Regions from separate parts of the Homo sapiens genome. Here all the other regions are linked to region 1. The links come from fine-mapping of genetic effects on gene expression. A gene starts in region 1. Each other region holds a variant in brackets. All regions are shown on one strand. Distances are between the middles of the regions.

Region 1 (10,727 bases):
CTGACTGTGCCCACTGTATTTTTAACCGCCCACAGGAAGCTCCTATCTCAGTATCACCTCATCTGAGTAAGTGCTGGGCCGTGTACCTTGACCTACAGTCACCCCAACCGTCTTCTTCCCCTGGTTCATCCTTCCCCTGTCATGAAATAGAAAGCATAGTCTTTACCATGGACCACTTAGGGTTGTCCTCTTTGCTAGATGGGTCATAATGGGGATTGTTTTTCTCAAACTGTGTGTGGTCTGGGTAAGCCTCTTTCACGATCTGAAACCAAAACAAAAGCTTTGAATCATCTGCCTGCAGTCAGCTCCACAGCCAATCTTTTAATCCATATCCAACTTTCATTTCTTCCCTGCACATTCTTAACCCATCTGCCTTGCTGTACAGCCAATGGGGGCTCAGATATTTGGAAACAATATATAGTCTAATATATAGACTAGGAAATCAACTCTGTTTTTACAAAAGTCTTAAAAACATGCTCTAAAAACAAATGGCAAAGGTTATTACTGGTACCACTGTTTTTTTCCCCTCTGCACAGTTAATAATTTTATCCTGATAAGCTTGGAGGAGCTATCATCAGGCCTGTTTTCGAGTGAGATCAAGACTTAGAGGTGGAGTGAAGTCTGTGCTAGTCGGACCTGAATGAAGGCCTGCTTTGAGTTATCAGATAGGAAGGGGCCAGGGCAGTTTTTCCCTATTCCTGTAAAAGGGGGATGGGGTGGGGGGGAGTGTACTTTTTTGTTGCCTAATTAAGGTATATCCCTTTATATCTACTTAAGTTAGTCTCCCTGGAGGAAAAGGGATTCACACCAAAACCTGCCCAACTAACCTTCATGAGTCCTGCGATGCCTGGCTCTTTGCAGTTGCTATGGTAGAAGAAGGCTTCTTCTCCCAGCTTCATGGCTCTAAGGAAGTTCCGAGCCTGTCCCGGGAGAAGAAAGAGTAACTATCCTCCCACCAGCTGGAAAGTACTAGCTTTTAGCAGAAATCAAGTCTGCTTTTAATAGATGGGTGATTCTTGTCTGCAACTCCTCAATTCATTAGAAAGTCCTTCCCCTTTGCCAGGACACCCAGACTTTTACCAGGACATTGGCCAGAACACAGGCCAATTGAAAATTTCATGCAGAGTACTTAAGGCATTTTTTAATACATTATCAGGTTTGCTTCTGAGAAAAAGCAACCTTGGCCAAGAGGTTCTGCTACTGAGTACGTCATGAGGAGGAGGCAGGCATTCATCCCACCTGGGTCTCAGGCGACCTCCTCCTTACCCTCTTACCTGGTAGTTACGAACACCATCCCAGCATGTTGTCTGTTTGGGCTGTGCTTTGAGATCCTCAATGCTGAACTAGGCAAGAGGAAATAAATTCAATCATTAAACAATCCTTGGCCAGTTAGTAAGCACATATGGAAGCAGACAGTTCCTTCCCCTAAAATGAGAGGGGCCACTGGCTATAGAGGAAGTATGTAGTTCACCGGGAAGTGGCTCCACAGAGACACTTTTGCTGGGTGAATGTAAGTAAGCCTTGTGTTACCTTGTTATCCTTGCTAATTATGAGGATTAGCTGAATGAATAATCTAGGTGATAAAGTAATCTGCTAGTTACTTGCATTTTACTTTATATTTATAATAGTTCTGCTTATATTTTTCCCAGGCTATATTAAATTCCCTGAAATATACATCAACTGTTGGCAGGGAGACACCTAGGAGCATGGCAGGTGTTCAGAGAAAGGTAACCTAAGATTGAGGTTGGCAGACTATAGCCTTCAGGACAAATCTAACCCCATGCTGGATTTTGTGAATAAAGTTGAACTTGAACACAGCCACAGCTGTTTACTTATTATCTGTGGCCACTCTCTTGCTACAAGGGCAGGGTTGCAACAGAGACTGTAACACGCACAAGCCTACAAAATTTACTATCTGGCCCTTTGTGGCAAAGGTTAGCCAACCCCTGCCCTAGATACACAGGTTCACAAACCAGCTGATGATAATAAACCCTGCCGATTTTATTCATTTTTACCTTTTTCCTTCCCTTCAAAGATAAGAAGCTGGGGATGGAACCCTATGGTGTCCCATATTCACTTCTCATTTAAAAAACACCATGAAGGGACTGGAGACAGGTCAAGGGTCTCACCTTCACATCTACACCTTTCTCTAGGCGGCTCTCTGGCTCTGACTTCATCAGCCAGTGGCTGCTTAGATTCTTCAAACAGTTTTTAGTGGCTGAAGTCTTCTGAGGGTTGGAGTCCTCCACTTTAGCTAATGCCTCACCTGAGTTCTCAGTTTTGGTGCGTTTTCCTGATAGTCCCTTGTCTGCAATAGGAGAAGCAAAAAGAAAAGATCATGCTTGTTAAAGGCAATGTTTCATAATGGAAAAAGCTTAGCTTTGGAGTCAGACCTGGATTCAAATCATGGATCCATTACCAGCTGTAGGAACTTAATCTTACTGTTAAGAAGCTTTCCTTATCTATAAAAATTAGACAAGAATACCTACCTTACAGGGTATCTTCTGGATTATCTATTCAATAGGGTAAGAACACCTTACAGGGTTGTTCAGGATTAAAGGTCCGGACAGTAGTCAATACATGTTTTCCTTTCCTCACTCTCTCTTCTATGCCTTTGCATAGGAAAGAGGAAACTGAGCACCTACTTGCAACTATTTTGAAGCTTAAATGAGGTAATACAAAGGGCCTAGACAATGCCTGGCATTACAATAAGTGCATAATAAAAGCATTATTATTCTCATCTCATACGTCTTTCCTTCTTGCTCACTGTGGCTCCTGGCCCATCTCCTTTCTGCTCCTTGAAGGTGCCAATAAAAGTTGAAAGAAACAGTTCATTCAGGACATTGTAGAAAAATGGTGATGATTCGATTTCATCCCAAGACAATCAGAATGTGCCTGGAACACAGTAGGCATTCAGTAGCTAAGTTGTTAAATTACTATATGACAGGGCCCAAGGTCTATGTGTTACCCTAACCCTAACTCGGTTAATCTACATAACCTGTGAGATGTTCTACTCTTCATCTGGGAAGCATGCTCCAGATCACACATCCAGTAATGGTGGAATCAAGATATGAGGTCAGCACCTGTCACTGAGGTCTATCTGAAGCTACTTAATGACTATACTGCCTCTGAATTTAGTCAAAGTCCCTACATCAATTGTCATTAAATACCATTTATGGCTGTCTAATGCTCTGAACCCAGCATACCTTCCTAACCTAGTTTCCTAATGGCCCCTTAGGAGTTAACAGGCCCACTGCAAACACCACATATTGATAAATAACTGCAATGTGCTGTAGTATATCTGGAACCCCTGTCATTCCCAAAAGAGGTACTTTCTGTACCTTCCAATGTTCCTCCTCCTCCATCCACTTAGAATGCCATCCATCTTTGTGATTATAAAAACGACATCACGTTTTCTTAGTACTAAACTTTGCCCGTGGAAAGTCTCCCATTCTTCAAGGCTGGGCTCAAATTCCACATCCTTCTCGAGGCCTTCCCCGTGATTCCTCCCTCCATAAACTTAACAATCCATTTTCCTGAACCCCATCACATCTGTTTGCAGTTCACCCGCAAGCAGGCGCTTTATATTCTTTAGCACGCCACCTGGTATCTCAAAGAGTCTTTGTGCACAACAACCATTGCCTGAATAAACAAGAAAAAGGAACTGTAGGTAGGAGCTTGGTGAGACAAGTAAAGAAGATGGAGAGTGATTAAGGATAATGGAGTAAAAATATCACAAAGGGTTCTCAAAAAGCAGGGAGTGAAAAATGAGTACTAAACAGGCTCTTCGAGAAAAGTTTTTTCTTGGGCTGCCTTTGTGCAGCCTAGGGGCAGCTCACCTGAACCAGAAGTCCCAGCCAGCCTCTTCCGGGGTCTCGACATGGTCACGCTGCAGGGGACTTTAGTGCGGACGATTCTGGAATCAACGGAGATACAAGAAAGAATGCTAATGTCCTCCAAAACCCGCGCAGAGCGAGATGGAGGCAACGAGAGGCAGCCTAGAACGTCTCCAACTTTTGCGAAACACAGACGCCTACGTTTGAGCCCTCAAATCCTTCCCTCCGTTATCTGCGCCATTTCCATCTCGCATAACCTGCCCCTAAACTCTTCTCGGTTCTGTCCTTGGTCCTTCTCATCCAGGAACCCCTATCTCAGTATGTAGTTCACTGGGAAGTGGCTCCACAGAGACACTTTTGTTGGGTGAATATAAGTAAGCCTTGTGTTACCTTGTTATCCTTGCTAATTAGGATCAACTGAATGGATAATCTAGATGATGAAGTAATTTGCTGGCTACAGACCCAACACTCTGCAGACTCGACTGCGGTCCGCCTCCGCTGCGCCGCAGGCTGTGCAGCGCGACCCCCGCGGCGCTTGGTGGGCGGTGCATCTCTGCGGCGCCGAGGCCCCGAGGACTTCTGGGAATTGTAGTCCTGTCCCCTTGGGAGCCCGCCTGGCACCTGGGTTGTTAGGGCTCGTGGGAGGACTACAACCCCCAGGGTGCAGTGGGACAGGCGTTGCCGGGTCGCAGGTCCCGCCAGTGCGAGCGCAACGGAGGTCGAAGGCGTTCAGACTCTTAGCTGAACGCGGAGCTGCGGCGGCTATGCTGTGGAGCGGCTGCCGGCGTTTCGGGGCGCGCCTCGGCTGCCTGCCCGGCGGTCTCCGGGTCCTCGTCCAGACCGGCCACCGGAGCTTGACCTCCTGCATCGACCGTAAGGATCTCCTGGCGGGCAGTAGGACAGGTGTCCAGAACCCCGGCGGACATATGTCCGCGAGGGGCTGCAGTCTCCCCGTTCCATCCAGTCACCCCGGCGTCAGCTCCCCTTCCGGCCAGTCACCCCCCCGGCCTGGCTCCCTACTCCGGCCGGTCACCCCCGGCCTGGCTGCCCCCTCCGGTCGGTCACCACCATCCGGGTCCCCATCTGGCCCGTCACCCCTGCCCGGGTCCTCCTCCGGCCGGTCACCCCCGCCCCGGTCCTCCTCCGGCCGGTCACCCCCGCCCCGGTCCTCCTCCGGCCGGTCACCCCCCGCAGGTTCCCCTCCGGCCGGTCATCCCCCCGCAGGTTCCCCTCCGGCCCGGGTCCTCCTGCGGCCGGTCACCCTCGGATGCTTAGAGAAGTGAAGAAACTTGGGGCTTGGTTGTTGTTGGGTTGGTTGGTTTTTAATCATAACAGTAGGTCATAAAAGCAGTGAGAATATAAGAAGCTGGCTGGGTGCTGATGGTGACAACTGCACAAGAACTCCAGGTCATACAAGATTTGCTCACACACAAAGATTTGGTATCTTAACACCTCTGGCTATAAGACACTTTTAGTGTTGAAACTCATGCAGGAAAAATAATTATTATTGCCAGTGGGAAACTCTACCAGAGCTGACAAACTTGAGTGTCTTTAGGCTCTGAACAGTAATTTGAATGTAGCGAGGAGTGGTGGAGACCCGGCCAGTTTGTGACTTCTCTGCCAAGAATGTTTATAAACACTTTTTTCTTCTGAAATATTTTTAAATTTATTTTAAATAAATGGCAGTTTTCTTTACAACAGAATAAGTCCCTTAGATATCAGATCTATAAAGTACAGTAAGGCATAGAATACTGTTTTCTTCTGAATGTCCTAAAACTCATTCAAGAGGTGCTGCCCTGGCCTAGCGCTTAGAATTTGATAACCCAGATTACCCTGGTTGATACCGAAGCAGATAAGGAATTATTTAGAGGTGGGTTTTGTTATTGTTTGCATCTTGCTTACACTTGAGTGGCTCTGCAGTCAAAGGCTTTTCCCATTTCATTTGGAGTGTTTTTCTATTTAGCTTTACCTTTTTAGTGTATATGTATTGGCATCTTGAGCTCTGCTAGTAACTATGTATTGGCATCTTGAACTCTGCTAGTAACTGGCAAAGTTCATGAGTGGTGGTATTTGTTTTGTTTTTATACTGTATTTCCTTCTGGGAACTTGTGTTTACTTATGCATATGATTTGCATAAAACTATTTCCTTCCATTAGAATGCAACTCAGATTTATTTCTTAAGCCTGTGGTTCCTTGAACTATTTGTTTTAGGAAGTAGCCATTTACAGAAGAAGAAGATTTGTTAACATTTAATGAGCTCTTGCTAGGATTGAAATAGTCATCCTTTGTGTGAATGGATCTTATTTATTTATTTTTTTGAGATGGAGTCTCTTTCTGTTGCCCAGGCTGGAGTACAGTGGTGCGATCTCAACTCACCGCAACCTCTGCCCCACGGGTTCAAGCAATTCTTGTGCCTCAGCCTCCCAAGTAGCTGGGATTACAGCACATGCCACCATGCCCAGCTAATTTTTATATTTTTAGTAGAGACGGGGTTTCACCATGTTGGACAAGCTGGACTTGAACTCCTGACCTCAAGTGATCCACCTGCCTTGGCCTCCCCAAAGTCTGGGATTACAGGCATGAGCCACTGCGCCTGGCTGGATCATATTTATTTTTGTAACCCCAGCACTGCTACCTAGTAAACACCCAATAAACATTCTTTTGGAAATGATCTTTGAGCCATGGTCTACAGTAACAGCAACCCTTGTACAAAATTGTGTGAATAAATGGCCTGACCCCAGTCAGAGAACCATGAATTGTTTATCCCTAACTCTGTTCCTGAGGGTAATACCCAACATAGGTTTCTGCTCTGAGTTTCTCAAGGCAGCCTAATCGTTAATCCTCAGAACTCTTCATTTCTGACTTTCCCATTTTAATGAGAGTACTGATCACAGAAAGCAGTGCCCTCTCCAGGCTCGCATAGCCAGCCATTACTGATGCCCAGATTTGCCCCAAGGAACAGACTCTGGCACCTGCCCTTGTGTTCTTCTGTGAGGACTGCATCGCTTGTAGGCACTGAAGTAAATTATTGCCAAGTGTGGCGCCATAGTCTTCCCATAGTGCTCTTTTTTCTTTTTTTCTTCTTTTGAAACAGAGTCTTGCTCTGTCACCCAGGCTAGAGTGCAATGGCACAATCTCAGCTCACTGCAACCTCTGCCTCCTGGGTTCAAGCGATTCTCCTGTCTCACCCTCCCAAAGTAGCTGGGATTACAGGCATGCGCCACCACACCCAGCTAATTTTTGTATTTTTAGTAGAGGCGGGGTTTTTCCATGTTGGTCAGGCTGGTCTTGAGCTCCTGACCTCAGGTGATCTGCCCGCCTCGGCCTCCTGAAGTGCTGGGATTATAGGCGTGAACCATCACGCCCAGCCCATAGTGCTCTTCAGTGTCAGTTATAATGACCAAAGTTCTAGCACTGTGGCCTCAACCTCTAGGTCTACAACTGCATTTTACTAAGTGCTAGGATAAGAGATGTCTGGAAGTCCCCTATCCTGTTCTAGGTTGATCTGGATGTGTGCTAGAACTGTCCTTTCTCCATATGACAAGTGGAATAACGACAGAAGCTGCCATTCTCTAGCTGTTAAAGGCTATACCGTGTATGGGAAATACTACAGTAGATCCACTTTCACAACTTCGTGGTGCTTCTTGTTGGCAACACCTTGTTGGCAACACTGACCCTGTCCTAGAACAGTATATGCAATCCTGCCCACAGCTTCCATGGGACTTAATGAAGAGCAGAAAGAATTTCAAAAAGTGGCCTTTGACTTTGCTGCCCGAGAGATGGCTCCAAATATGGCAGAGTGGGACCAGAAGGTAGGCGTTTTTCTTGTGCTTAGACGTTCTAACAACAGATGTCTCAGGCAGACCTTTATCTTTGTCTCCTGATAATGTAATTGTTAAATGTCTCCTCCACTTACCAACTCTTACTGCAAGTGAGAATACCGGTAGTGGATGATTTTTCCTAGAAGGCATCCTGATCATCTTGTACATAACTTTTTTTTTGTTAGTTGAATAAAGATTTGGATATAAAACTAAGGCAGTTCTATAGATAATAAAAAGAAACTTCTTAATGCCAGAACAAGTTTTTACAGGACCCATGTTAACTGATAACCACTGTAAGATGACAAACAGGCATATTAAGAGAATTCATACGCTGTCGCATGTGCAAGCCTCCTAATCCCTCACTGTGCCCTCTAAAAGGAAGGCCGTCTCTGAATCAGCTGCTGATCACCCTGCTCTCTTTTGTACATAGGAGCTGTTCCCAGTGGATGTGATGCGGAAGGCAGCCCAGCTAGGCTTCGGAGGGGTCTACATACAAACAGATGTGGGCGGGTCTGGGCTGTCACGTCTTGATACCTCTGTCATTTTTGAAGCCTTGGCTACAGGCTGCACCAGCACCACAGCCTATATAAGCATCCACAAGTGAGTGCCCAAGCTTGGAAGGCACAATGAAGTGCTCACTCGGGCTGACTGTGAGAGTTCAGATTCGTAGGAAAAAGATTGATCTTTTGAAGCTGAGTGTCCTCAAGGAACTGGACTTAAAAGTACACTCTAGGGGCCGGGCGCAGTGGCTCGTGCCTGTAATCCCAGCACTTTGGGAGGCCAAGGCAGGCAGATCACGAGGTCAGGAGTTTGAGACCAGCCTGGCCAACGTGGTGAAACCCCGTCCCTGCTAAAAATACAAAAAATTAGCCGGGTGTGGTGGCTGGCGCCTGTAGTCCCAGCTACTCGGGAGGCTGAGGCAGGAGGATGGTGTGAACCCGGGAGGCGGAGCTTGCAGTGAGCCGAGATGGACCACTGCACTCCAGCCTGGGCGACAGAGCGAGACTCCATCTCAAAAAAAATAAATAAATAAAATAAGTACACGCTAGGTCTGTTGCTGCCTGTTGGACTTGATTCTGTCATCCTGTGTATTGCTTAGGGAATCAGGTCAGCCAGCTTTCTCAGAAATCTTATTTTGAGCTGGTACCAGGAGACTTCTCCAATAGAGTGATCAGGGTCCTCTCACCCTTTTATTTATTTATTTATTTTTAAGACAGAGTCTCGCTCTGTTGCCCAGGCTAGGGTGCAGTGGCATGACCTCGGCTCACTGCAACCTCCGTCTCCCCGGTTCAAGTGATTCTCCTGCCTCAGCCTCCTGAGTAGCTGGGATTACAGGCACGTGCCACCACACCTGGCTAATTTTTTTTCATATTTAGTAGAGATGGGGTTTCACCATGTTAGTCAGGCTGGTCTCAAACTCCTGACCTTGTGTTCTGCCTGCCTCGGCCTCCCATAGTGCTGGGATTACAGATGTGAGCCACCGCACCCGGCCCCTCTCACCCTTTTCCTCAATCCAAAGATGGAACTGCCAGTGATTTGAGGAAGTAATAGAAACTACTAATAGAAAGCACATATAACTCTGATTTTTAGAGGCTCGTGTAACCTAACTAGAAGTAGTACAAACGTGCTGGTGAGAAGTACCTCAGCCTGGTTATCTCTGGGTAGTCCTTATTCCAGGAATATGTTTTAATCCACCGTTTGCCTTTAAAGAGTCTTCCCAATTGTGACTCTCCCCTTCCCACTCTTCTGCTTTACTCCACTGCCCTGCCCTTTGTTCTCTTTCCCCTTCTCCCCCATTTTTTTTTCTTTTCCATCTTTATTTCTGTCATTGTCTTTTCTTCTTGGTGTACCTATCAGCATGTGTGCCTGGATGATTGATAGCTTCGGAAATGAGGAACAGAGGCACAAATTTTGCCCACCGCTCTGTACCATGGAGAAGTTTGCTTCCTACTGCCTCACTGAACCAGGTGAATTTGCCACACTGCACTGAGATATAGCAGGGAGAGATGCTTCCTGCTCAGATGGCATTACCGAGCACTCCTTCCAGCCTCTTGACATGTCGAGCCACTGTTTATCTAGCTGTTTGGTTGAGGAGTAATAGAGTCCTGTGACCTGATGTCACAAGGACCAAGAAGCCTATCTGGTGTGTTGGGAGGTAGGCAGTGGCCTGACTGGTATGAGCAGTTTCCACCAAGTACAGAGAGTTCCTTTGGCCACTTGGGTTTTGCAGTGACACACTCTGAGCAGGGTCTGTTTAGAGAAGATTTCCTAGAAGATAGAATTGTGCTGGGCTCCCTCGACCTCACTGACTTTCTCACCTTCTCTCTGCTGCCTTTTGATCCCTCCTCAGGAAGTGGGAGTGATGCTGCCTCTCTTCTGACCTCCGCTAAGAAACAGGGAGATCATTACATCCTCAATGGCTCCAAGGTACTAGCGTGCGTCCTCCCAGAGCACTTTGGAGATTGTTCCCAGCTTCCTCCTGACATCCTCTGGTTCCTTCACATCCGCGGGTTAATACTCCCATAGGATTTTTATGTGTTGGGAAGAGAACCTCTGACCCATTTCTCTTTCTTTATTCTCACTGTTTGTATCTCTCCTAATCTGATTCCAGATCATTTCGTTGACTTTTGTCTATCCTTTTTATACTCTCTTGGACTGCCTCTCTGATCTGCAGTCACTGCAGCGACCTTTTACCTCACCTCAGTCTCTGTGCCATTGGACCTTATTGTCAGTCTCTGTGCCATTGGACCTTATTGTCAGTCTCTGTGCCATTGGACCTTATTGTCAGTCTCTGTGCCATTGGACCTTATTGTCAGTCTCTGTGCCATTGGACCTTATTGTCAGTCTCTGTGCCATTGGACCTTATTGTCAGGAGGACCCAGTGGTGTTCCCAGACGCTGTGAGAACTCAAGCATTCCCTGGTCCTTTTGCACCCCTTTTACCCCCACAGGCCTTCATCAGTGGTGCTGGTGAGTCAGACATCTATGTGGTCATGTGCCGAACAGGAGGACCAGGCCCCAAGGGCATCTCATGCATAGTTGTTGAGAAGGGGACCCCTGGCCTCAGCTTT
Region 2 (10,727 bases), 96 kb after region 1:
CATGGGCTGCTTGTGTGACAGGCAGCAGCAGGGCTGGCCCTCCTGGCATCTCATGCTTCAGGACTCTGCTGTGGAGCTGTGAGTCCTGGCAGGTCATTCACCTGCGTGTCTGCAGTATGGGAAAAATCCGACCTTCCCTGTCTGTTTCTTTTTTTTGAGACAGAGTCTTGCTCTGGCACTCAGGCTGGAGTGCAGTGGTGTGATCTTGGCTTACTGCAACCTCCGCCTCCCGGGTTCAAGCGATTCTCCTGCCTCAGCCTCCCGAGTAGCTAGGGTTACAGGTGTGTGCCACCACGCGCAGCTAATTTTTGTATTTTTAGTAAAGACAGGGTTTCACCATGTTGGCTAGGCTGGTCTGGAACTCCTGACCTTGTGATCTGCCCACCTCGGCCTCCCAAAGTGCTGGGATTACAGGCATGAGCCACCGCGCCCGGCCTTCCCTATCTCTTTCTTAGGAATGTTACCAAGCATATTTTGAAAAGTCCAAGTATTTTGATAAAGTATAAGAGAAACAAATTCTTGTTATGGTTTTGTCTTCCTATCTCGGCCCACGTGTGTCATCTTCCCAGTGCTAGTCTTGGCTGAGTTTGGTGTTCTGTGGTTGGAGTGGAAATCTGGACAGGAATCAGCTGGGACTTCATTCATTCCTCATCCTCAACATTGTGGCCTTTAAGATTTTCTTGTTAACTGGTGTAACCTTTCTCAGCCTCCCAGTGTACCAGGTGGTTAGACCCAGACTGCCTCAGGGAAGAGGCTGATCCTTGTCCCCAAGCCGTCTCCCCTCCCCTGGTCCCTGGGGAGCCCTGGGCTTCTTTTCCTCCTGGTTTCCAGCATGACCCGCCCTTCCCTCGGGGGCATAGCTTCTGTCTCCACTACCCAGGGCCACTTCTCAGGCACTGATCCATCCAGCCTGGTAGGCTCACCCTAGTCACGAACACAGCCAGGGCAGCCTCTCCCATCCCTGTGGATTAGAAAGCTGTGTGCCACCGTCAGCGATTTCCTCGGCTCAGCCGGGGCCGGGCACAGGAGGACGAAGGGTTTAACAGTCTTAACTTAGAAGCAGTGGGGAGCTGTGGCACTCAGACTCCCCCTTCTCACCCCGCCCATGTGGCACCTGGCCATGCATGAGAGGGGCATGTGGGCACACCTGCGGAGGGGGCGTCCGGGCGTGAGTGAGAAGGCTAACCTGTCAGGTGGGGTTAGAATGTGGGGGTGTCGGTCTGGAGGAAACTGCTCTCTCCTCACCCCTTGTTTGACCCACAGAAATGGGATAATTTCCTGACCCTGTTTAGGACTTCCAGACCAGGGCAAGAGGAGCCTCAGAGCCTTTTGTTAGAAAATATGTGTCTTCTCAGAACCTGAAGTGAGAAGGAAGAGCCCTGACTCCAGCTTTGGAACCAATCCACGCTGCTGTGTTCCTCTGGGGAGTTTGGGATCATAGCAACAGGGTGGAGGGAGAATTCAACTCTTGCTCACCTGCTGCTCTGGGCTGTGCGCCACTGATGCCAAGGCGTTAGCCACGTTGGCAAGGATGGGGACTGCCTCCTGCTCAGCCCCTCGCAGTCTCTGTCAGGCTTGTTTTTTGGGGTGACGCTAGAAGGTTGTGTCTCCTCCTTCCACAGCCTCAGTGATTCCTAACCCTTTTGACTTCACTTTTTGAAATGGGATCACAGAGCAAGTTGTTGAAAACTAGGCCTGGAGTCCTGTGAAAAGCTTTTCTCACTGCTGGCAGCCAGGCCCTGTAGCTGTGGAGCTGGAAATGAACTTCCACCAGGCTGTGTCCTTGGGGAGGGAAGCTGCAGGAGTGCGGGTGGGTGCTCGCCCCAGAATCGGTTTGCATTGTCTCCCCACTTCTGGGCTCAGTGGGGTGGAGGAGGGCACAGGTCATTCTGGAGCACTGGGGGGCCTCTCCCTTCTCACGCATCAACAGCCTGCTCACAGCAAACCCACTGTGACACTAACATCCTTCCTTTCCCCCGTTTACACTTCAAGCTGGCTACTCCAAGACCCTGGCATGAGGCTGAGGACAACTTACAAGGGCTTCACCGAAGCAGTGGACCTTTATTTTGACCACCTGATGTCCAGGGTGGTGCCACTCCAGGTACAAGCAAATGGGGTCTTCTTTGATCTTGGTCTGTCTTCCTCTAGGTCGTGGATCATCCTTGGTTAGTTCTCAGACCAAGGGTCCTCCAGTGTTTTGAACACACGAGCAGGCTCTTCCTCACCGTCCGAGACTCGTAACTGAGGGGCTTGCAAGAGTTGTCTTTGGAAAGATCTGTGCATTTCAGTGTTGTCTCACTTGGGTGCGTTACTGAAAGGACAGACAGATGTAAGGGCTCACATTGCCACATACAGCACTGGAGAGACAGGGATGCTGTGATAGCCGGGAACACGCATCCACTGGCATCTCCATGGTTCCACAGAGACAGGGATGAGGTGATAGCCGGGAACACCCATCTATCTACCAGTGTCCCAGTAGCACTGCGGCTCAGTTTTGCACAGGGTGGAGCACATGTGGATTAACCTTTGCCTATAAGACTGCAGGACTTTTTATAAATTATAAAATTCCTTTCGCTGACTTTACGAGATACTTCCCTCTGCTACCAAAAAGGTGCTGCATGGTACACACTTACTATTCAAAACATGCGTTAAAGTACGTTTTGGGGGAGGAAGTACCTTAATATTTTATATAATAATTGGAAGCTTTGGAAAGCAGGAATGGGAAAAATCAACCCAGTTGCTGTGTAAAACCAGAAAGAACGGCATTGAGAAATTAGTACATCAATAAAAAATTAGTTCAAGTCAGTGGTATGGAATACTCACCACACACATAAATCAAAGGGAACTGCCAGATGAAACACAGGATGCTCAGTTATATTTGAGTTTCAGATAAGCAAGGAATAATTTTTTAGTGTAAATATATTCCAAATATTGCATGGGTCATACTTACACTAAAAAATTATTTGTTGTGAATTCAAATTTAACTTTATGTCTGGTATTTTTGTTTACTAAATCCGGCAGCCTTAACCATGACAGAAGCAAGGAACTAGGAAGTCATTAGCCTAGATCTTGCTGGGAAGCTGGGGATCAGCAGGTTGTAGGAGTCGGGTGGGCAGCAGGATGGCCGTCCTGGGAGCAGGCTCAGAGGCACTTGCAGACGTGCAGCGGGTCACCAATGCATCTTTTTGAAATAAACGATAACATAATTATTATTATTTAACATATTTAAATAATCACATAGTTATTTAATTTTTGTGACTATGGGATAGTATACATAACATAAACTTTGCCATTTTAACCATTTTGAAATGTACAGCTCAGCGGCATTGAGTCCACCCACACTGTTGTGTGCTCATCTCCACAGCCTTAGTTCAGGCTGCCACAACCAAACACCTAGACTGAGTGGCTTACAGACAAAGAAATTCATTTCTCCCAGTTTTGGAGAGTGGGAAGTCCAAGAACAAAGCACTGGCAGATTCGGTGTCTGGAAGGGCCCCCTTCCAGGGCATATACGGCCATCTTCTTGATGCAACCTTACATGGCAGAGAGCGTCAGAGAGCTCCCTGAGGTCCCTCTTATAAGAGCACTAGCCCTGTTGGCAAGGACTCTATGCTCATAACTAATCACCACCCAAAAGTCCCACCTCTGAATACCGTCACAGTGGGGGTTAGGATTTCAACATGTAAATTTTGGGAGAACACAGTCTATTGCAACCACTGTCTATCTCCAGTCCTTTTCTGTCTTCCCCAATGTAAACTCTGTGCCGTTAAACCCTCCATTCTTCCCTCTCTCAGCTCCTGACAGCCATTCTACTCTCTGTCTCCATGCATTTGATCATTTTAGCTACCAAATATAAGTGAAATCACATAGTATTGTGACTGGATTATTTCACTTAACAGCGCCCTCAAGGTTCATCTGTGTCATAGCCTGTGTCAGAATTTCCTTCCTTTTTAAGACTGAATTATGTTCCATTGCATGTATATAACACGTTTGTTTATCCTTCATCCATTGACGAACGTTTGAGTTGCTTCTGCCTTTTGGCCACTGTAAATAAAGCTGCTGTGAGCATGGGTGTACAAATACCTTTCTGAGCCCCTGCTTTCGCTTCTTTTGGGTATATACCTAGAAGTGAAATTGCTGGATCAACTTGTCATTCTACATTCAGTTTTTTTTAGGAATTGCCATACCGTTTTCCACAGAAGTTGCACCAAATTACATTCCCACCAGCAATACACAAGCTTTGCAATTTCCCCACATCCTTGCCAACACTTGTTATTTCCTGTTTATCTGGGGAGAGCCATCAGTGGGTGTGAAGTGGTATCTCATGGTGGTTTTGATTTGCATTTCCCTGGTGATGTTGAGCATCTTTCATGTGCTGATTGGTCTTTTGCATATCTTGGAAGAAATGTTTATTCAAGTCTTCTGCTCATTTTTGAATCTAGTTGTTTGTTTTTATGTTGTTGATTATAGGAATTCTTTTTACTTTCTGGAGATCAATTCCTTAACAGGACCTGCCAGGACTGGGTCCTTCGCTTCAAGGCAGCAGGTTCCCTTTTGGCTCAGGGTATGTCTAGAAGTGTCTGGAAGCTAGGGCCTGGAACGAGGGCCTCTTGACTCTGCCGGCGCCCTTTCCTACTGTGGTTGAGCTGGATCCAAGATGCAAGACAAAGTCCTCTTTACTCTTTGCTCTCCTCTCCTTAAGCAGAAGGAAGGAGCCACTTTCGTTGCTGTGAGCTGCGCTACCTGGGCTTGGGGGAGGGATGTGCAAGAACTCCCTTAGCCATGCCAGCTGGTGGCTCCTTAGGCCATGCGCTGTGCTAGTACACTGGCTGTAAGCTCATCCTAGCTCCAGGAGTTGCATAGGAATTGCGGTCTTTGTGTCCTAGACTGCCTTTCATGTTTACCTAGGACTCCAGAGCACTTCAGCCCATGGTGGTGAGGCTTCCCAAGAAACTCAAGTTCCAATCACTAGGGTGGGCAGTTCCTCTCTGGCTAGGGCTGGTCCAAATGCTCCGTCTACGTGGATGCTGGCTGAGCTCAGCATGGCTTTATCCTGTGCTGTGACAAGGCAGCACTGAGTTCAATGTAAAGTTCCCCAGTCACTGTGCTCTCCCTTCCCCAAATGCACAGATCCTCTCTCCTCACCACTTGGCTGCCGCTGGGAGATGGGAGAGGGTGGCATCGGTGGTGTAAGGCTGTCTCTCTTGCCTGCCTTAATGCGTCTTTTGGTGATATGAAGTTAAAACCAGGTACTGTGACGGGTCACTTGAGTTTCGGTTTTTGTCATGGTGCTTTTCTGCGTGCAGATCACTGTTAAAATTTCGTGTTCCAGCAGGACGGATGAACGGTGCAGCCTTCTATTCCTCCATCTTGCTCCACTGTCTTTTATTTTCTTTTAGTATTTTGTTTGTAATGTACAATCAGTGTACAAATATTTCACCTCCTTGATTAAATGTATTCCCAAGTATTTTGTTGTTTTTGATGGTGTCGTAAATGGAATTGTCCCCTGATGGTGGATAAAAACAATGCATTTTTGCACATTGATTTTTTTTATCCTGCAAGCTTACTGAATTATTAGCTAGATAGTTTTTTTTAGGGGTGTGGGGATGTGCACTGTTTTCTGCATTTAAGATCATGTTGTCTGTGAACAGAGATAACTTCTTCCTTTCCAACTTGGTTGCCTTTATTTTTTTCTTGACTAATTGCTCTGGCAGGACTTCCAGTACCGTGTTGAATAGAAGTGCTGAAAGCACGAATGCTTGGTTTGTTCCTGATCGTAGAGGAAAAGTTTTCAGTCTTTCACCAGTGAATATGATGTTGACTGTGGGCTTTCTGTATGGGGCCTTTACTATGTTGAGGTAGTTTCCTTCTGTTCCTAGTTGACTGAGTGTTTTTTATCATGAAAGAATGTTGAATTTTATCACTTTTTTCTGCATCAATTGGGATCATCATGTGGTTTTTCCTCTTAATTTTGTTAATGCGGTATATTACATTGATTGATTCTTTTTCTTTCTTTTTTTTTTTTTTTTTGAGATGGTGGTTCCCTCTTGTTGCTCAGGCTGGAGAGCAATGGCGCTATCTCAGCTCACTGCAACCTCCTCCTCCCAGGTTCAAGTGATTCTCCTGCCTCAGCCTCCTGAATAGCTGGGGTTACAAGCACCTGCCACCATGCCCAGCTAATTTTGTATTTTCAGTAGAGATGGGGTTTTACCCTGTTGATCAGGCTGGTCTCAAACTTCTGACCTCAGGTGATCCACCTGCCTCAGCCTCCCAAAGTGCTGGGATTATAGGCATGAGCCACCATGCCTGGCCTACATTGATTGCTTTTCACATGGCAAATCATCCTCGCATTACAGGAATGAATCCCATTTGATCATGGTTTATAATTCTTTTAATATGCTGCTGAATTAAGTTGGCTAACATGTTGTTGAGGGTTTTGGCATCAGTATTCATCAGGACTGTTAGTCCGTGTTTTCTTTTCTCATAGTGTCTTTTGTTTGTAATAAAAGAAAAAAGTGTCAACTTTTTTTGACACTTCTATATCCAGCAAAACTCAAAAATGAGGGAAAAATTAAGAAATTCCCAAAGAAAAGTGAAAAGAGTTTATTACTGTATTCTAC[C/G]TTATAGAATAAGGTAGGAAGTGTTCCTTCCCTTTCAATTTTTGGGAAGGGTTTGAGGAAGACTGGCGTTAATTTTTCTTTAAATATTTGGTAGAATTTACCAGTGAAGCCATCTGGTCCTGGACTTTTCTTTGTTGGGAGGTTTTTAGTTACTGATTCAGTGTCCTTACTAGTTATAGGTCTGTTCAGATTTTATATTTCTTCATGATTTAGTTTTGGCATATTATATATTTCTAGGAATTTGTGTGTTTCATCTAGGTTATTTAATATTTAATTTGTTGGCGTACAATTTGTTCATATTCCTCTTCTGTAATCGTTTTTATTTCTGTAAAATCAGCAGTAATAGCCTCATGTTGTTTCTGATTTTAGTTGAGTCATATCTTTTTTCTTAGTTTAGCTGCAGTTTGTCAGTTTTGTTGATCTTTTCAAATAACCAACTCTTGGTTTCATTAATTTTTCTTTATTGTTTTTCTATTCTCTCATTGTCTATCTCTGCTCTAATCTTTATTATTTCCTTACTTCTGCTACCTTTTAGTTTGTTTCCCTTTTTCTGGTTTCTTAAGGTATAAAGTTAAGTTGTTGGTTTGAGACCTTTTGTCTTTTAAATGTATTTATAGCTATAAAATTTCCCTCTTTGCACTGCTTTCACTGTAATTCATAATTTTATTTCCATTTTCATTTTTCTCAATATGTCTTCTTTTTTTTTTTTTTTGAGATGGAGTCTCGCTCTTGTCGCCCAGGCAGGAGTGCAGTGGCATGATCTCAGCTCACTACAACGTCCGCCTCCCAGGTTCAAGTGATTCTCATTACTCACCCTCCCAAGTAGCTGGGATTACAGGTGCCCGTGACCACGCCCGGCTGATATTTGTATTTTTAGTAGAGACGGGGTTTCCCCTTGTTGGCCGGGCTGGTCTTGAACTCCCTATCTCAGGTGATCCGCCCGCCTTGGCCTCCCAAAGTGCTGGGATTACAGGCGTGAGCCACTGCGCCTGGCCTCAATATATTTTCTAATGTCTCTTGTGATTTCCTCTTTGGACTATTGGTGAAGATTTTATTTCCACATACTTGAATTTTTCAGGACTTTTTTGGTTATTGATTTCTAGTTTCATTCCATTGTGATTGGGAAAAATAAAACTTTGTAAGATTTCAATTTTTTAAATTTATTAAAGCTTGAGGCTGGGTGTGGTGGCTCATGCCTGTAATCCTAGCACTTTGGGAGGCCGAGGCAAGTGGAACACTTGAGGTCGGGAGTTAGAGACCAGCTTGGCCAACATGTTGAAACCCATTCTCTACTAAAAAATACAAAAATTAGCCAGGTGTGGTGACGGGCACCTGTAATCCCAGCTACTTGGGAGGCTGAGGCACAAGAATCACTTGAACCTGGGAGATGGAGGTTGCAGTGAGCCAAGATTGTGCCACTGCACTCCAGCCTGGGTGACAGAGCAAGACTCTGTTTTTTTTTAAAAAAGAAAAATTTATTAAGGCTTGTTTTTTTGGCTTACTATATGGTTTATCCTGGAGAGTGTTTTATGTGCCCATGAGAAAAATGTGTATTGTGCTACTTTTGGGTGGAATGTTGTGTATATATATGTTTGGTCCAACTGGTCCATAATATTGTCTAGGTCCTCTATTTGGTTACTAATTTTCTGTCTGGTTACTCTATCCATTATTGATATTCAGATATTGAGTCTCCTACTATTATTGTCTATTTTTCCCTTTAATTTTGCCACTGTTTGGCTCATATACTTTGGAATTCTGGCATTTGGTGCATATATGTTTATAATTGTTATATCCTTTTGGTGAATTGACCCTTTTATCATTATATATATTTTATCATGTCTTTGTCTCTTGTAACAGTTTTTGATATAAAGTCTATTTTGTTTGATATTAGCAAAGCCACCCCTCCTCTTTTGATTACTGTTTGCATAAAATATCTTTTTCCAGCCTTTCACTTCCAACCAATAAATATCCTTAGATCTGAAGTGAGTGTCTTGTAGATAGTATATAGTTGGATATCGGTTTGTTAAAAATCCATTCTGCCAATGTATGTCTTTTGATTGGGGAGTTTAATGTGTTTACATTCAAAGTAATTACTGATAGAGAATCACTTGCTTTTGCCATTTTGTTGCTTTCTGTATGTCTTACAGCTTTTTGTCCCTCATTTCCTTTATGACTGCTTTACTTTGTATCTAGTTGATTTTTTTATAGTGACACTTTTTTATAACGATTCCCTTTACCTTGGGATAAGGTAAAGGATATATAATATCCTAAAGTTGTGACATTCTGTTTTAAATTGATACCAACCTAACTTCAACTGCACACAAAAACTCCTTTACAGTTCTGCCCTTCCACTTTATTTTATTGATGTCACAAATTATGTCTTCATATTGGGTGTACCCATTAACTTAAATTTATAATTATTTTATGTCTTTTAAAATCTTGTAGAAAATAAAAAGCCACATTGTAAAGAAAAATTATAATAATATTTTTATATTTTTTATGTGTCTATCTTTGCTGGAGAACTTTATATTTTCATATAGCTTCAAATTACTCTCTAGCATTTTTTCATTTCAACTTTAGGTGTTTTTTTTCTAGGGAAGGTCTAGTGGTAATGAACTCTCTTAGCTTTACTTTGGGAATTTCTTAATTTTTCCCTCATTTTTGAGTTTTGCTGGATATAGAAGTGTCAAAAAAAAAGTTGACACTTTTTCCTTTCAGCACTTTGACTATATCATCTCATTGCCTTCTGGCCTGAAAATTTTCTGGCTGAGATATCCTTTATAGTCTTATTGAGGATCCCTTGCCTGTGACCAAAACTTTTTCTGGCATTCAAGAATCTCTCTTTGTCTTCAATGGTTTGATTATAGAGTGTCCCTGAGTGGTTCTCTGGAATTTTTTGAGCTCCTTAGATTTATATAATCTTGTCTTTCCTCAAATTGGAGAAGTTTTCAGCTATTATTTTGTAAAAATAATCTCCCTGCCCTTTTATCTCTCTTTTTCTTCTAAGAAACCCATAATTCATATATTATTCTGCTTGAAGATGTTGTGTAAGCCCCTTAGGCTCTGTTCACTTTTCTTTATTCTTTTATCTCCTCAGACCTGATCATTTCTGATAACCTGTGTTTAAGTTTGCTTTTCTTTCTTCTACCTGTTTGAATCTGCCGTTGAACTCCTCTAGTGAATTTTTCAATTTATATATGGTATATTTCAGCCCCAGAAGTTCCTTTGGTTCTTTTAAAAATAATCTCTGTTTCTTTGTTGATATTCTCTTTTTCTTCATATATCATTTGCCTGGTTTCCTTTAGCTCCTTGAGCATATTTACGACAGCTGTTATAGATCTTGCTCTACTGAGTCTGGTGTGTGTGTTTCTTCAGATACTGCTTTTGGAGATTTATTTTGTTCCTTTGATGAGTCATACTTCCCTGTTTCTTTTTATGTTTGTGTTTTTTTGGTTGAACATTGGGCTTTTGAAAAAACAAACACCTATTTCAGTTTTTGCATGTTTTCAGGGGAACCCTCACTAATTAGTGGGCCCCTAAGCCCGGAGATCAGCCCAACATGAAGACTTAAGAGCTGATATTTTCTGGGCATGTGTTCTGTCTGTATCTGTGTGTGTGCTTCCCTCCCTACCTCCCCTCCCTGGTCGCTTTCAAGGGTCTTTAATTCCCAGAGTCTCACCCCAGCTTCTTCTTGTGGCCTTAGATGCTTTTCATTTTCTTTTGCTGTAATTCTTTTCCCCCAGGCATCCAAGGCTTTATAGTCCTCTGGCAGCTTTCATATGCTGCCATCTTTAGCTTCCAGCCTGAAGTCCAAACTATGTTGACGATTCCTGTTTGAGCTCCATGTCAGACAAGACAGAAACCAGTACGTTGGGCAGAACAAGTTAGAACATCGTGAACAAGTTAGAACATTGTAAACAAGTTAGAACATTATCAACAAGTTCCATTTTGCTTCTTCCCCATGAGGGAGCGGGGAGTTGGGACGCATCCTCCTGACCACACCATGCTACATTGGGGTGGGGCAAGAACTTGTGAAAACATCATACAATTTTGTACCATTTTGCATATGACTTTTTGTTTTGATTTGGTGGTCACTTGTTTGGTTAG
Region 3 (10,727 bases), 50 kb after region 1:
TGGTCTCACAACTCTTGGATGCTGTTTTCTTTCCCACTGTCTTTTTTTCTCTTTACTTTTCAGTTTGCTTAATTTCTACTGACTTATCTTTAAGTTCGTTGATTCATTCCTCATGCCTGTTGAGTTTAGCGATGAGCCTATTGAAGAAATTTTTCGTTTCTCTTGCTATGTTTTTGATTTCTAGTATTTCCATTTGCTTCTTTCTTAGTTTTCATCTTTCAGCCAAAATTATCTATCTGATCTTGCATGCTGTCTTCCTTTTCCATGATAGTCTTAAGTATATTAATCATAGTTATTTTGAATTCCTTGTGAGATAGTTACAACATCTGTGTCTTATCTGTTTCTGATGATTGCTTTATCTCTTCCAAGTGTGTTCTTTTCTTGCCTTTTTGTATGTCTCATAATTTTTTATTGAAAACTGCGCATCATGCATAGGACATAGATACTGTCTTGGAGATCAGCCTGCCTTTCATTCTGCTAGGCCATGTGGGATTTTGTGTTCCCCTCGTCTGGAGTTAGGCTGGTTGTGGGGTTTGTTGTTGCTGTGTTATCCTTTGTGCATCATGGGCTTCAAATGTTTCTGGTGGTACCTTGTGTCAAGGGCAAGTGCTGGTTTGGCAGAGGTTGTTTTCTCTGTGTCTGCATTCCCCTCTGAGTCTCGCCTTTGCATTGAGTCCCACAGAGAATCTGTTGCTTGCGGATCTCTCAGCTATAGTATGTGTTACTTTTTCTCCAGCTTGGTTAGCCTGCTGGTGAGGGAGAAAGGCTTCCCCTGATGTTCTGATTATGCCTTATTGCCAGCAGATGCTGTCTGTGGGTCTGAGGGGTGTGGCCTTTGCAGGTGCTCCTACCCAGCTCTTCTTCTAGCGGCAGATCTGATCCTAGCATGTGTTCCTCCTTTCCCAAGGATAGTGCATCCCCTGCCCCTTTCCCAGATGCAATGGATTTTATCCAGTTAAGATGTCCTTAAGTGACAGCTTCTGTGCTGTTTCTCAGCTGATTGGGGCTTTTGTTCCCTAGAGAAGATGGGCTGGGAGAAGGTCTGGCAGTGGCGGTGGCTCTCTCCCCTCAGCCAGCACCAGAAAGGAAGCTGTGTTACTTTGTTAGGGTTGCCATAGCAAAGGACCATAGACTGTGTGGCTTAAACAGCAGATGTTTATTTTCCCACATTCTGGAGACTACATGTCTGAAATCAAGGTGCTGGCAGGGTAGGTTTCTTCTGAGGCCTCTCTCCCTGGCTTATTGGACGGCTGTCTTCTCCTCCCTGTGCCCTCACATGATCTCTTCTCTGTGTGTGTCTGTGTCCTAATCTCCTCTTCTTATAAGGACACCAGACATATTGGATTAGGGCCCATCCTATTGACCACATTTTTTTTTTTTTTTTTTTGAGACATAGTCTTGCTCTGTCGCCCAGGCTAGAGTGCAGTGGTGTGAACTCGGCTCACTGCAAGCTCCACCTCCTGGGTTCACACCATTCTCCTGCCTCAGCCTCCCGAGTAGCTGGGACTACAGGCGCCCTCCACCACGCCAGGCTAATTTTTTTTGTATTTTTAGTAGAGACGGGGTTTCACCGTGTTAGCCAGGATGGTCTCTATCTCCTGACCTCATGATCCGCCTGCCTCAGCCTCCCAAAGTGCTGGGATTACAGGCGTGAGCCACCGCGCCCGGCCCCTATTGACCACATTTTAATCAAGGCGCCTACAGGCTGTTCTCCTCTGAGGCCTCTCCTTATCTTGCAGATGGTCACCTTCTTAACGTGCCCTCGCATGGTCTTTCTGCCGTGAACACGAGACCCTGGTGTGTCAAAATTTCCTCTTCTTATGAGGACCCCGGTGACATGGGATTAAGACCCACACTAACAGCCTCACTTTTACCTAATTACCTCTTTAAAGGCTCTGTCTCCAAGTACAGTCACATTCTGCAGTACTGAGGGTTAGGCCTTCGTGTGAATTTGGCTGGGGGACGCAATTCAGCCTGCAACAGAGACTTGCCCGGGATTCTCCCGAATCTCCCCTCAGAACAGCTGGTAGACTTGGGGAGTTAAAGCCAGCATCAGGGTGTCAGCCGCCATCCGTCTCGGCTCCCTTGACTTCAGACTCTCACGCTGGCCCACACTGTCTTCAGCACTTCTTTAATATGATCTATTTGTGTTATATTAGAGGATCTAGCCCCAGGTAAGCAAGTGGCTTGGGTCCAGCTTCTTCCTGCAGGCATCAGGTTTTCCATGGATTTTAGGTATTTGGTTGCTCTGTGACCTAGGTTCTCTGATGGACCCAAGAAGCCATGAATTTACAGTTTTTCAAGTTTTGTCCTCGCTGTGAGGATGGGATTTATGTTTTTCCCACTGCTATATCTCTGAGCTGTACTCAGAAGTCTGTTTCCTTCTGAGTAAATGTAGTTGTTACAGTTTTTCTAGGAATATGTCCATTTCACTCAAACTAAAATATAATGGCATATAATTATGCACACTATCTTCTTGTTTTTAATGGCCGTATCATTTGTGCTGGTCTTTCCTTTTCATTTCTGATCTTAATTATTGATTCGTTTTTACTCTGTCTTAACATTCTCATCAGAAGCATGTTGGTTCTTTTCAAAGAACCGATTTTTTTTTAAGTTGTCTCTATTGCAAATTAATTTCAATTTCACTGCTTCTACCCTTAGGTTTATATTTCCTTTATTTATTTTACTATTTTTGGTTTATTTTGCTGTTCTAATTTCTTGAGGTGGGTAATTAGCCTTCACATTTTATCTGTATGTTTTATTATGAACATTTAAGGAATGGATTTCTCATTAGTTCATGAGTTTTATATTTGGTATATTTGATATACTGTAATTCAGACTAGTGTGAGTATTCAATATGATTGTTTCTTTGGCCTATGAGTATGTTTAGAAGTTAATTTTTAAATTTTCAGACATACGGAGTTTTTCTATTTTTTTCCTTTATTTCGCTGGTCAGAAAACATACTCTGTACCTTTTCAAACTTTTGTAAATTGTTTTCTTTGATTATTAATTCATGACTTTTTAATATGTTTAATGCCTTCTTATCAATTTTAATCATTACGTTGTTGAAGCTTAAAGTGGCTTCTCGCTGGCCTGCTGGCAGCACCTTCCACCTGGCTCCTCTCTCCTCTGACGTGACCCCATCAGTCTTTCATAGTTTACTTGGTTTCCAGCCAAATACAATGTCCCAGACTCACCTGATACATTTCCAATCCTCAGCCCAGAAACAGCGATTTCTCCTAAGAACCCTGTTGCTTCTGTAGAATACAAGCTGTGCTTACTATCAAATTGCTGTTACTTCTAAGCATTTTCAGAGTGTAGGGCCAGGATATTGGCATGTTTTAAACGAGGAGAAAACTGTGGTTTCATTGATTTCTTAAAAAATACAAATTTAGAATTATAGAGGTTATATTTAACTTTTCTGATTTATATTTTTATTTTTTCTCTGACTTTGGACATCATAGTTGATAACAACATTCACAATTTTGTTATTCACTTAATTCTATAATATATTCATAATAGGTTTGAAATAACACTGATAATATTACTGAAAATAAGAAAAATCTAATGATCTTAAAGATTTCTGTGGTTTTTCTTTTATCTTTAAGGTATATCACACAGAGAATGTGTAGTGAAAATTCTATGTACTAAGGTTACATGGAATACTTTCTTTGTTTTATGTAATTGTTTTACCAACTTGGTGTAGAGTTAGATTCATTTGTTTTCAATTTTTAGGTGTGATTCTTTATTTTTTATGTTTAATTTTGTTTGTGTTTATGTCCTATCAATGGTCAGTTTTGGTAAATGCCCTGTGTGTTTGTAATGAATGTATTTTGCGGTACTGGGTGCAGTATTCTGTTTAAGTTCTATGTCAATTTTATTTATTGTGTTATTCTAGTTTTCTATTTCCAATTGATTTTTTTGGCTGGTTGTATTGGTCACTGAAAGAGATGTGTTAATATTTCTATCATAATTGCAGATTTGCATATTTCTACCAGTAGACCTTAGTATTTTACCTGTCCTTTAGCAAGTTTATCAAAGTTTGCTTGATGTATTTTGAGGCTATGTAAATGTGGACTTGTTTTATCTTCATGGACATGAAATTTTATCACTAGGGAGTCATCCTGTTTGTATGCAGTATTGCTTTTTGTCTTAAGGTCACTTTTGTCTGTCATTGATATTGCCATGCCAGACCTCTCTGATTAATATTTGAATGTGTATCATTTTCTATATCCTCATTTGGGTTTTAATCTTGCTGTAATTCTACATTTTTCTTTAGACATCTCTCTTATTAGAGATCAGAAATTAGTTGAATATTTTTATTTTAGTCTGACACAATTAAACTTTTATTTGGAGCTGTCAGTCATTCATATTTCATGTAATTCTTGTTAGACTGAAGTTGAACCTGCCATCTGATTATGTGCCTGCTTTTAAGTGTTTCTTTTCTTTTTCTTTACAATCTTGGCTTCTTTTTATGGATTCGACTATTTAAAAAAATCAATTTCTGTTTTTTCCTATGTCATTCTGGAGTTACAGAGTCTGATTTTATCTTTTAAAAGTCATCCTTGAAATTTTAATGTAAGTACTGAGTCCCCTGCAGTCTAAAGTTCTGCTCTCCGCCTGGATTGTACAAGTGCCTCAGGGCAAGCACTGACTCTGGCCACTCCATCAGATGCATCTTCTGGATTTTTCTTGTATTTGATTTCTATCTTTTTAAAACTCTAAAAATATCATGTATTTGTTTTATACAATCAATATTCCTTCAGTTTTAGCCCAATATTTATCTTTTTGCTTTTTATTATTTTTCATATCTTGGAGATTCTACTCAGGATCAGTTTTCTTCTGCTTGAAGTACATGCTTTAGTGATGTCTGTTTATGGCAGACTCTCTGTTTCCAGGCTTCAGTCTCTTCCCGGCTCTGAATTCTAATGTGGCAGTTTTCTTTCAGCACACAGTCTGCTGACTTCACTGCTGTGATGGGGAGGGCTTCTGTCAGGCTTTCTTTTCTCCTTTATTACTAAGAATTTTTTGTTTCTTTTTTTGTTTTCTGCAGTTGAACTATGTCTCTTTCTGAGTGTCTTTTTATTTATTATTCCAGTTTGTCGGGCTTCTAGAATGTGTGTGTTCCCAGGTAGTAGTTCTTCAAATGTTGCTTCTCCTGTGTTGTCTCACTCCTCTCATCCTGGAATTCCAGCTAAATTCATTAAACCTTCTCAAATGTGCTGGGTATCTCTTTAGTTTGTACATTTTT[G/A]TCTACTTATGCTGCTATTTGGATACTTTCTTCTGATTTATTTTCATATACACGAATTCTCTTTTCAGCTGTATCTATGGTGATACTGTATTTGATTTAACTTTGTAAAAATCCTCAATGAGTGGGTTCGTCCAAATAACATAGATCATGATTGTTGGAAATTGTGAGTCTTTGATCATATCTTTAAATATGTTAAAAAATTTTTTTATTTGGTTTATTCTCTTTAGGGACACAAGTTATGTGTAATGCAAACTTCTTCTGTCTTACTTTCACATCTCCTGCATCCATTTCCTTCTCATTCTTTCTACTCTCTGTTCATTTTAACTGTGCTCACTTTTCACTCCTTTTCTTTTCATGTCCCTCACAATGTTTATTTTCCTTTTAGCTGCTTCCAGTTTGGACTTAATATTTTCTATTTTATCTGCCTTAAAAAAAATCTTTGTTAGGTAATATTTTAGCTCCTTATATTTCCTTATCATGTCTTCCTTGAGTACTTTTAGTTCTCTTTTTATGCTCTCCATTTATAGAGGTGATTGTTTCATTGGGGTTTTTAACTTTATAACAATATTTTTGGGTCACAATTTTGACCTATGCTATAGAAAGTTTTTGGTGTTCCTCCTCTAATTTCTTTCCCTGTTGAAAAAGAAAAAAACTCTTTTTTATTAGAATTTTAAATGTAGATTCTATTGTTGTTTCTTTTTTATTATTACTCATCTTTGATGGAGATGAGTTCTTATTGGCTCAAGGACTCAAGAGAAGTTGCTGTGAGAGCCCGCATGCGACTGCGCTAACAATGTATCTTAGTGGCATAATAACAATGTATCTTAGTGGCACAATGCTGTAGGCAGGGATGAATTCTTATCTTTACCCATCTTCCTTTTTGCTTTCTCTCCTCCCAGGGAGCCAGTATAGATGCAGGACTGCTCTCAGATGCCTCACAAGCAGCAACTTCTTCCTCCTTATAGTTCTTATCTGTGATTCTTCCATAATTTTGTCCTTCTAAGCTTCTGATGCACTGAATTATGTAAAGTGCATTCCCTTCACCAGCTTGTGCACCCTATTCTGTAACTGATAATAAATGGTTGGTATTGCACTATAGAGTATGCTTCTTACTTAGGAGAAATTTGTGCTGTTAGTCTTTCCTAAAATCTTCGACAAAGAGCATTCTCTCTCTACGTTTTTTGAACCCCTGATAGACCTTCAATGCTTTTGCGCTTCTTCCTCCTCATTTATATTTTGAAGTTTCAGATGACTCTTAGCTTCACAGAGGATGTTGTTTGTGTTTCCATTTCTCAGTCCTTATTTTGATTTGGAAGATTTCCAGGAGGAGAATGTCAAGCCCACAGTACAATTTTAACACCAGAAGTCAGTCTTTCCTCTTGAATACAAATGGAAAATTAAGGATCTGTATTTATTTAATAAAATTTCACAAAGAGAAAATAATTAAATTACAAATAAAGAAGAAAATGGAAATCAGGGAACATGGAGTTAATTCAGGCAACAAAATAGAGTAGTAAAAAGGCTTATTAATATGCATAGAGATATGAATAAGATTATACCTGAACAAGAGTGGGCTGTTAAGTAAGAGGGACAATCAGGGAACCAAAAACAACTCTTTGAAATTAAAAATCTAATATTTGAAATTAAAAATTAAATATAGAAGTTGGAAGGTAAAGATGATCAAATTCCCTAATATTACTATTAGTATAAGCCCACAAAACAGAAAAGAGACAAGATAAACGTCTTATAGGAGTATTGTAGGAGACCCAACATCTTATTAATACTGGTTGCAAAAAGAGTGGACAAAGAGCATGGAGGAAAGGAAATTGCAAATAACATAAGAATTTCCTTTAACTGAAGTATCTATATGTCCAGATGAAAAGTGTACCTCAAATAGTAAGCACAGTAAGTGATGAAAAAGACCTAAATTGTGAAATTAGCATCCTACAGAGAGAAAAACCACAGGTTTACATGCCAAGCAAAAACAATTAGAATGGCATAGGATTATAAAATATTGGATAATAGGAAGCAATGGCATATGCCTTTAAAATTTGAGGCTAAATGAATTTTAACTTAGAATTTTATACCCAATTAATAATTTTAAATATTAATTGTGTTGATAGCCAGACATTTAAGGACTCAGAATATTTATTTTCCACTCATCTTTTCTATGGAAGTGTTTGAAGGATGCAGGAAATGAGAAATGAAACCAAAGTAGAAGAGAACATAGGATCTGGAAAACATCATAATCCAAATCCAGGGAGCAGCTAACAAAAGTCCTAGGTTGACAGATCTTTGGGCTTAGAGTGAGACAATCTTAGAGCAGCAGCATGCCAGAGGACTCCAGGAGTGCAGCTGAAAATGCATGCTGAGTGGCTGACATATCACCCAGAAGAAGCTCAGCTATGATCTTCCGTTTTAATATCCATGGCACAGCAACAGCCAGGCCTACTGTAGAGGAGGTGTCACCTTTTAAAAACAGAATCTACGTTATTCAGCAGCACTGAAAATGCTAGGCTACAAGTGGAATGCAGGTGTCAGGCTGAAAGCCTGTGGCATCTGAGTTTCTACATAAGGAATTGCGGTCAGGTCCTCGTGTATCCAAAACCCATTCTTTCAACACCAGCCTTGGGTGAGACAGGGTTGAAATTGCTGATGGTGCTTTCCGGGTATAGTAGGGAGGCACATGAAGCTGGAGACCATGGACGTTTAGGAGTGGAGGAACCAGAGCTGTGAATGACGGCCAAGGGCCGTGGGGGAAGAAATACTGGATCAAAACGGGAAAGCTCTGAATTGGGAAAAAGGAGAAACGCATGAGTTCCTTAGTTCCCATCTATTGCATTCAGGTTTTCTGATTTTTCTTTTTTGTTTTTTGCCAGACTTAGTATTTGCTTTGGTTTGTTTTTAGAGAGATAAGCCCCTTCTGATTATGGAATACTGGGTCGGCTGGTTCGACAGATGGGGAGATAAGCACCATGTTAAAGATGCAAAGGGTGAGTGTTTTGCAGTGTTTGACTCCAGGAAGAGATGGCCCCAGGTCCCATGAGAACTCATTCATACAGTTCTCTGCTAATTGATTCACTTGATCAGCCGTAGATATTCATGCAACTTTTCACATACAAGCACTCAGCCAGGCCCTGAGGATGCTCTGGTGGATAGAAATTACATGGTTCCCACCCCCAACAGAGTATAAGTTAGTGAGGTCCACAGATCATTACAGAGTAAAACAATCAATATGTAGTTCCATGTTTGGTGGATACTTTGAAGCAAACAAACAGGGTGCAGTGATAGAAAAGACAGAAGAAAGACCTGCGCAGGTAAGGTTAGGTGGTCACCGAAGCTTCTCTGAAAATGTGACATCTCTGAGGAAGGTGGAACATTAATCATCTCTAGCAGTGCATAGGCCCTCTCTATGGCATTGTCAACTAAGCACTAATAATAGTCAGGGGACAACATGCAGCGATAGCCAAGAGCATGGATCTTGGAGCCAAAGAGATCAGGTTTTAATCTCAGCTCTGCAGCGCTAGCCATGCGCTAGCTTCATGCAGGCTTCCTTCATTTTAATTCTCAGTGACCTCATCCAAACGTGAGGATTATCATAAAACCAACCTCATGAGGCTGGTGTGAGGATCAAGTGCTGCCACTTAGAGCAATGCCTGGCAGTCGTTTACTTAATAGGCATTTGTGTCTACAGAAGATATTTCGAAAGAGCTGTTATGAAAACAAGGCCACTTGTATCTGAAGTATAGAAAAACATTGAAAAATACTTGGGAACTGAGAAAAGCCTGTTTTAGGTTGAAAAATAGAAAAAAAGTCAAAAGAAAAATGCCACTATTACCACCAATAACACCAACAATAATACCATCACTACCACCAACAATAATGCCAGCAACAATACCACCACCATCATCACATCACCACCACAATCACCATCATCACCAACACCACCACCAGCACCACCACCATCACCATCATCACCATCACCACTACCACCACCACCATCACCATCACCACCACCACCATCACCATCACCACCATCACCACCACCACCACCACCACCACCACCAAATACCACCACCACCACCACCACCACCACTACCACCACCATCACCATCACCATCACCATCATCACCATCACCACTACCACCACCACCACCACCACCATCACCACCATCACCACCATCACCATCACCACCACCACCATCATCACCATCACCACCACCACCACCATCACCACCACCACCACCACCACCACCAAATACCACCACCACCATCACCACCAAATACCACCACCACCACCACCATGTCCACCACCACTACCACCACCATCACCATCACCATCACCACCACCACCACCATCACCATCACCATCATCACCATCACCTCCACCACCACCACCACTATCACCACCATCACCATCAACACCATCACCACCATCATCACCACCACCACCACCACCAACACCACCACCACCACTACCAAATAAAACTTTTCTGGTCTCTTGTATGGCAGGCACTGTGCCTTTTTTCCACATATATTACCTCATCAATGAATTTTCTCATCAGTCCCATGATATAGCTGGAATTAATACATTCATTTAACAGATCAGGAAGCAGTGGCGTTGAGAAAGAAAATAGGTTGCCCCAGGTCATACAAATAGTAACGAGCACAGCCAGAATTGACTCCCACTCTAAATGACTTTTAACCTTCTTCTTCCCACTGTGGCCAGTGGAGAGATGATTGCAGCTGTTTAAACACAGTACAAAATGGAAGTTTTGTGGCTAAAGATTAAGAGCAACCACTTGTGGACTATGGCGGTGTTTCCAAGTCAGTGTTCCCAGAAACATTTCACTGGAAGGTAGTAATGAGGGTGTACTAATTATATGTATGATTTCAAAAAACTTAAGGAAAATTAGATATTTAAGTGACATGAGGGTTCTTAGGTTATTATTTAATAGATGTAGTTTAGAGTCAAATTATGTCAATATTTTGGAAAAAAAGTGTTCAAAAATCTCTTGGGATTGACAAGATTCGGTGTCCTAGAGTAGTTCTGGCCAATTCTGCCTATTTTTTTGTTGGAATCTTTGTAGAGGTTGAATGATAAAACATTTGCAGTAGGTCTTTAACGTCATCAATAGGTTCTTGGAAACTAAACAAAATGATGTACAGCATATCCTCATATAATACTGTTTTCTTCAACATTGTTTCATTATAAAATTGAGAGAAAAATTGTTTTTTTTTTTATATCATTTTACTTAAAGTCTCCATTCCCAAGAATGTATATAGCCGTGAAGCGAGGAGTTACTGTAACTGATTGTGGAGTGGGGTTGGAAAGGATAAGAGTTTGCCAGAGGCTTCTGTCTCCTCTTAATTTCTAACATTCTCTGTGTTCTCATGTTCCCCTTTGCAGAGGTTGAACATGCTGTGTCTGAATTCATCAAATATGAGATCTCCTTCAATGTATATATGTTCCAT

Which allele goes with the higher level. Positions count from the first base shown, and alleles are read on the strand shown. Sizes are in standard deviations (SD) of each study's normalised expression.
With allele G in place of C in region 2, the expression in sigmoid colon of the gene that starts at base 4,352 in region 1 is lower (small effect, 0.17 SD a copy in GTEx).
For the expression in subcutaneous fat of the gene that starts at base 4,352 in region 1, A is the low allele of the variant in region 3 and G is the other (large effect, 1.3 SD a copy in FUSION).

What was found.
Region 2: its variant is fine-mapped to the expression of THYN1 in sigmoid colon (GTEx, PIP 0.91).
Region 3: its variant is fine-mapped to the expression of THYN1 in subcutaneous fat (FUSION, PIP 0.95).

Annotation. Positions count from the first base shown.
Region 1 is chr11:134,249,001-134,259,727 of GRCh38, forward strand. It overlaps THYN1 (thymocyte nuclear protein 1), which reads right to left and starts at 4,352. Exons shown (of 7, transcript NM_014174.3): 1 at 3,840-4,352; 2 at 2,130-2,308; 3 at 1,275-1,343; 4 at 828-920; 5 at 167-262. The coding sequence starts at 3,882. It overlaps ACAD8 (acyl-CoA dehydrogenase family member 8), which reads left to right and starts at 4,568. Exons shown (of 11, transcript NM_014384.3): 1 at 4,568-4,709; 2 at 7,548-7,648; 3 at 8,088-8,257; 4 at 9,515-9,624; 5 at 10,008-10,084; 6 at 10,608-10,727. The coding sequence starts at 4,601. RefSeq lists an enhancer at 4,113-4,482.
Region 2 is chr11:134,345,333-134,356,059 of GRCh38, forward strand. It overlaps GLB1L2 (galactosidase beta 1 like 2), which reads left to right. Exons shown (of 19, transcript NM_001370461.1): 5 at 1,993-2,101. Among named protein-coding and RNA genes, the nearest start is that of GLB1L2, 19 kb to the left of the region's middle. RefSeq lists a silencer at 4,296-4,355. The variant C/G (reference allele first, on the strand shown) is at 6,621.
Region 3 is chr11:134,298,964-134,309,690 of GRCh38, forward strand. It overlaps GLB1L3 (galactosidase beta 1 like 3), which reads left to right. Exons shown (of 20, transcript NM_001080407.3): 10 at 8,161-8,245; 11 at 10,663-10,727. Among named protein-coding and RNA genes, the nearest start is that of GLB1L2, 28 kb to the right of the region's middle. The variant G/A (reference allele first, on the strand shown) is at 5,253.